Regions from separate parts of the Homo sapiens genome. Here region 1 is linked to region 2. Evidence: fine-mapped expression QTL. A gene starts in region 2. The other region holds a variant in brackets. All regions are shown on one strand. Distances are from middle to middle.

Region 1 (2,901 bases), 53 kb after region 2:
AGACTCCCAAGACAGCTGGGCTGCGACCAATGGAAACAAAGGACATTCCAGTAGTGCACCAGCTCCTCACCAGGTACTTGAAGCAATTTCACCTTACGCCCGTCATGAGCCAGGAGGAGGTGGAGCACTGGTTCTACCCCCAGGAGAATATCATCGACACTTTCGTGGTGGAGGTGAGTCAGGGAGTGGTGTTCCAGGTCTCTAACACGTTCCCAGAGAGGCACCCCCCTGAGTGGCCGGGTTCCCAGGGCTCGAGTGTTGGCACCTTAGACTTCCTTGACCATCCGTGTTTGGTCCTCCCTAAAAACAGGGAGTTGGTGCTTGAATTTGCTGAAAAGATACCTCTGGATCTGGCTTGAGCCCTTCTCCCCCTCTGCCCCACTTTGATAACACAAAATAGAGAGAACTGAGCCCCGCTTAATCCTTCAGGAAAGCCTGCAATTCCCTGCCTGTCCCAGCTTAACCCAGTGCTGACCAGACATAGGAGACACAGTCTGGGGGGATGTGAGCTGCAAGAAGAGGTCCCTGGCGGTGCCCATGCTGGGAAAGAGGTCTGGCAGGTTCAGCCCACGATCACGGCTCTGTCCTCAAGTGCCCTGAGCCAATGTCCCTCCTCCTCCCCACATGTCCTGTTGCAGTTTCCAGCCATTTATCTAGAGGGGCAGAGCTGCCTGAAGGTGGAGTGAGAGAAACATTTTGTTCCCGGGCCGCAGTGCCACTGTGCATGCTTGACATTGCCTCTTTATTGCCTTCCCTTCAGAACGCAAACGGAGAGGTGACAGATTTCCTGAGCTTTTATACGCTGCCCTCCACCATCATGAACCATCCAACCCACAAGAGTCTCAAAGCTGCTTATTCTTTCTACAACGTTCACACCCAGACCCCTCTTCTAGACCTCATGAGCGACGCCCTTGTCCTCGCCAAAATGGTGAGGAGCAGACGGGGGGGTCTCTGGAGATGTGCAGGGAAGAGGCAGTGGAGCCATGGTGAGCACAGCTCCCGGGACGCAGCCTCCCATGGGCTGGAGGCTCTGAGCCCTCCTCATCTGTTCTGCTTAGGCAGGGTTCCCGCAGTTTTTAGGCAGAAACTCAAAACTTGGAGGGAACAAGGAGCATCCGAAGTGAAGGCATTGAACTCCTCCTGATTCATTTCAGTGAGTTTCGTTCTCACAGGAGGCGCCACCAAGGAGCCTGAATAGCCAGGCCTTCCCTGGGAGGACAGGGCTTCTCCTCACAGCTTTCCCAGCGTGGGAAAGGGGTGATTGCTGTCTGTCGTGGTGAGTCATTGGAGCATCCAACTGCCAGTAGCGGATGGCGAGCCCGTCTGTCAGTGCTTTGCTGTGGGTTCTGGTAACCTGTGCCCAGCCCAGCCCAGCCTGCTGTAGGCAATCTGGTCCCTGCCCTGTGAGAGCTTCTGCTCCAGTTGGTGAGGTTTAGGAAGCATCTTCACAGTCTCCAAGCAACACAGCAGGTGTCATACAACATGAGGTGCACTGAGGGCCTGAGAGTTGGGGCATCCATGGAGTAAGGAAGCAACACAAACCCCATGTAGCTGACCAGAGCCAGCTTCTCAGAGGAATGGGCTCAGGGTTTGGACTCCAGAGAGGACTGTGGAAATTAC[TAG/T]AGTTTCAGGGAGGCATAACCAGGAATAGCAAGAGCCCCGGCCTGGACACTGAGTACATATGTGTACACTCTGAGGGACACTGGGCAGAGGCCAGGCTGGAGGGGGCGCTCAGAGTGTCCTGAGAACCACCCGGAGAGCGGGGATTAACGTGGAAGCAGCGGAGCTTCTGAGGGAACCTTGTTCTTGTGGCTGCCCACAGGACAGCTTTGAAATGGCAGCAAAGGGGTAGGAAGGAGGCTGTCCCCACCTGTCCTCACCTGTTCTTGTTTGTCCCTGCTGCTTTGCAGAAAGGGTTTGATGTGTTCAATGCACTGGATCTCATGGAGAACAAAACCTTCCTGGAGAAGCTCAAGTTTGGCATAGGGGACGGCAACCTGCAGTATTACCTTTACAATTGGAAATGCCCCAGCATGGGGGCAGAGAAGGTAGGCGACACATAGCCAGAGTCCAGGCTGCCCGGCCCAGGGTGTCCATGTCTCCAGCAGAAACCGGGCCATGGGTTGAGGAGACAGCCGCAGTCTGGGTCCTTGTTACCTCGAGTTGAACCTTTGAAAATGCCCTCCCTCTGCTGGCCAGACCAGCAGGTCAGCGTTCCCCTCTCAGCAACTGGTGTGAGGATGGCAGAGGGGACAGAGCCACACAGTAGCACGAAGATCATCTCCAATGAGGCCTTCCCACGTGAGGGAACCGTGGAAGTTGAGTTGCCCACGGTTTGCCAGGAGGGTAGGGCTGGGGGAACTCTGAGGAGGTTTCCTCTCCTGAGCTGCTGCCCTCTTCTGGCATGACACTTTCTTAGCCCTTCCTCCCCCAGTGCCACAGGGGACATAGGGGTGAGCTGGAGCGTGGGCCAGTTTTCCCTGGGAGGTCTGATGGACGTGTGAACCCTGGTGTGGAGGTTGAGTGTGGGGCCGGCTGGGTGTGAGTCTGCTCCCACAGCACAGGCGGTGGACCCGGGCCCAGCCACTCGGAACTTCAGGGATAGGGGGTGTGGGAGAGTCTTTGGGCCACTGTCAACTCAGCTCTGCCTCTCCCTGTTGGCTTTCCTAGGTTGGACTGGTGCTACAATAACCAGTCACCAGTGCGATTCTGGATAAAGCCACTGAAAATTCGAACCAGGAAATGGAACCCCACCACTGTTGGTCCAATTTTCACACACGTGAGAATCCCTGGCAAAGGGAGCAGAACTGAACCGGCTTTACCAAACCGCCAGCGAACTTGACAATTGTATTGCGATGGCGTGGGCTGCGTGACGTCACCTCCGGTCGTGTCTCTGGTCTC
Region 2 (2,901 bases):
GAGTAGCTGGGACTACAGGCATGCACCACCATGTCCGGCTAATTTTTTTGCATTTTTAGTTGACACGGGGGTTTCACCATGTTGACCAGGCTGGTCTCGAACTCCTAACCTCGGGTGATCCACCCTCCTCAACCTACCAAAGCGCTGGGATTACAGGCGTGAGCCACCGTGCCCGGCCCAGAGGGTAATTTTCAAAACAAAGCTAAGTTCGTGGCTTGCCTGCCTTCAGCTATCAGCCCTCTTCTTCTCTCCTTAAGGTACAGGCACCAAGAGGGGCTCGGAGACCATTTAAACGTTATTTACCAAGGGGACAGATTCAGACCTTGGTGAAGACAGACAGAGGAGGATTTGGTGGGAATTTAGGGCCCTGCTGAGACAAAAACCACCCGAACCCGTCTGTCCACTTTCTATCCATCTACCAGATCTCTAGCATTTCACCCCTTTCCCCAGGCCTATGCCAGCACTGTGCCACACCAACTCAATCTTGATTTATTCAGGTAAAATGAGCACTCTCCCTCCTGCAAAAACAAACACGTTTAAGACATAAAACATATTCAAAGGCTTCCATTTCCTCACCGTTAGAATTGAGACTTAATGTCAAAGTTCACTTGGGTAGGTTGAATCATTTTCCCACAACTAAGGGAGAGTGAAAAATCTTTGAAAACTCTGTAAGCAAACACCTGAAATGCCAACGCCTCCTTTGCGGAGCTGGGGAAGGAAGAGACGGGTGGCCGGATGGCCTCCCTCACTAGTTGGTGGGCGTGAGATCCACGCCGCCCCAGTCCCGGGGGCCTTCACTAAAACCTTAACTGGCCTCCCAGGGGAGAGGGAAGCGGAGGAGAGGGGTCTGAAAATCGGAGATGATCACTCAGCTCAACAGTAAAGCACTTTATACCCACCCTATGGGACAGATACTGTAGCTTTATTCCCATTTTTCAGATGAGCAAACTTGGGATCGGAAAGATACCCCAAGGTCACACAACTGAAGTGGCAGAAGCTAGATTCAAGAATCAATCGGCCCGCAAAGTTCTAAAGGGCAGTGGCTTTGGTCTGATCCTGAGTTTGAATCCACAATCTCCAGCCCTTTCTAGCTGTAAACCTTCCTGCGCGTCCTCAGCCGTAAAACAGAGGAAATAACACGTTGCTTGGTAGGGTTGCTGTCAAGACAATGGGCCGTGGATATAAAAGCACTTGCCTTAGTGCTGGCCGCATACGACGCGCTCAATACATCGTAACTCAGGCTTTCAAAAGAGGCCCGTACGCCCCACTAGGCCGCGAAATTGGGTCGCCCGGGGCGGTGGCAGCCCCGCGTAGCAGCCGCGGCCAGGGCCCGCCCCCTCCCCGGCGCCCGGCTGGCTCTCACCGGCCCGCGTGGCGCGCTACGTACCCAGCGCCTCCGCCGTGGCCCAGGCCTCCGCCTCTAGCCCAATCTCCGCAGCGCTTACAGGCCGGCTCAGCGGGCGAGGCGGGACCTCGGGAGCGCGCGCCTGCAGACCGGACGTCCGGCCAGCAGGCGGGGCCGGGAGAGGTTGGACGGGCGGGGCCGGGAGAGGTTGGGTGGGCGGGCGGGGCCGGGAGAGGTTGGGCGGGCGGGCGGGCGGGGCCGGGAGAGGTTGGGCGGGCGGGCGGGCGGGGCCGGGAGAGGTTGGGCGGGCGGGCGGGCGGGGCCGGGAGAGGTTGGGCGGGCGGGCGGGCGGGGCCGGGAGAGGTTGGGCGGGCGGGCGGACGCGGGAGAGGTTGGGCGGGCGGGCGGACGCGGGAGAGGTTGGGCGGGCGGGCGGACGCGGGAGAGGTTGGGCGGGCGGGCGGACGCGGGAGAGGTTGGGCGGGCGGGCGGACGCGGGAGAGGTTGGGCGGGCGGGCGGACGCGGGAGAGGTTGGGCGGGCGGGCGGACGCGGGAGAGGTTGGGCGGGAGAGGTTGGGCGGGAGGGCGGCCGGACGGACGCGGGAGAGGCCGGCGGGGAGAGCTCGGCCCCGGAGCACGGCACAGAGGTCCCCCGCAACCCCCGACCCGGAGCCATAAATTTTCCTTTCCCCGGAGCCGGGAAGGAGAGGGAGAGAGAGGAGAGGGGCAAAACTGCAGGGTCCTAACTTCGGATATAAAGCTCGGCCACTCGCTACTTGTGCAGCCTTGGCAGAGGTGATCATGAGCACTTTCCACCTGCCAGGTCCTAAGAGCACTTTGTGGGATTATCTCAGCCCGCACAGTCCGCAGGGTGGATACTATCATCATCCCCATTTTACACAACAGGAAACTATGTTTAGCGGTTAATCCATTTGCCCTCTCATACAAAGTCATGTGATTGCAGAGCCCGCATCCTGTCCATACAAGCCTAGCAAGCCACTCAGCCTCTCATCCTGTCTCCTCTCAAAGTGGGGATAATCGCAGCCGTGCAGCGTTGTTGAAAGAATACATAAAAGCCGGGCACGGTGGCTCACACCTGTAATCTCAGCACTTTGGGAGGATCACTTGAGCCCAGGAGTTCGAGACCAGCCTAAACAAGAGTGAGACTAACCCCCGATCTCTACAAAAAAAAAAAACAAAAAACAAACTAGCCAGGCATGGTGACAGTGTGGTCTCATTTACTCGGGAGGCTGAGGCAGGAGGATGGCTTGAGCCCAGGAGGTCAAGGCTGCAGAGAGCCATGATGGTACCACTGCACTCCAGCCTGGGCAACAAAACGAGACCTTGCCTCAAAAAAAATAAAGCATCTAGGCCGGGCGCTGTGGCTCACGCCTGTAATCCCAGCACTTTGGGAGGCCAAGGCGGGTGGATCACCTGAGGTCAGGAGTTTGAGACCAGCCTGGCCAACATGGCAAAATCCCGTCTCTACTAAAAATACAAAATTAGCCGGGCGTGGTGGTGAATGCCTGTAATCCCAGCTACACGGGAGGCTGAG

The links. PIP is the estimated chance that this variant, and not a neighbour inherited with it, causes the effect.
Region 1: its variant is the best candidate, but not a certain one, in a credible set for the expression of DCAKD in lung (TOPMed, PIP 0.58).

The regions. Positions count from the first base shown.
Region 1 is chr17:45,102,949-45,105,849 of GRCh38, forward strand. NMT1 (N-myristoyltransferase 1) reads left to right here. Exons shown (of 12, transcript NM_021079.5): 9 at 3-173; 10 at 761-928; 11 at 1,911-2,048; 12 at 2,671-2,901. The coding sequence ends at 2,691. Among named protein-coding and RNA genes, the nearest start is that of MIR6784, 10 kb to the right of the region's middle. RefSeq lists an enhancer at 578-1,078. The variant TAG/T (reference allele first, on the strand shown) is at 1,621.
Region 2 is chr17:45,050,166-45,053,066 of GRCh38, forward strand. DCAKD (dephospho-CoA kinase domain containing) reads right to left here and starts at 1,467. Exons shown (of 5, transcript NM_001288655.2): 1 at 1,196-1,467. RefSeq lists a silencer at 1,108-1,607.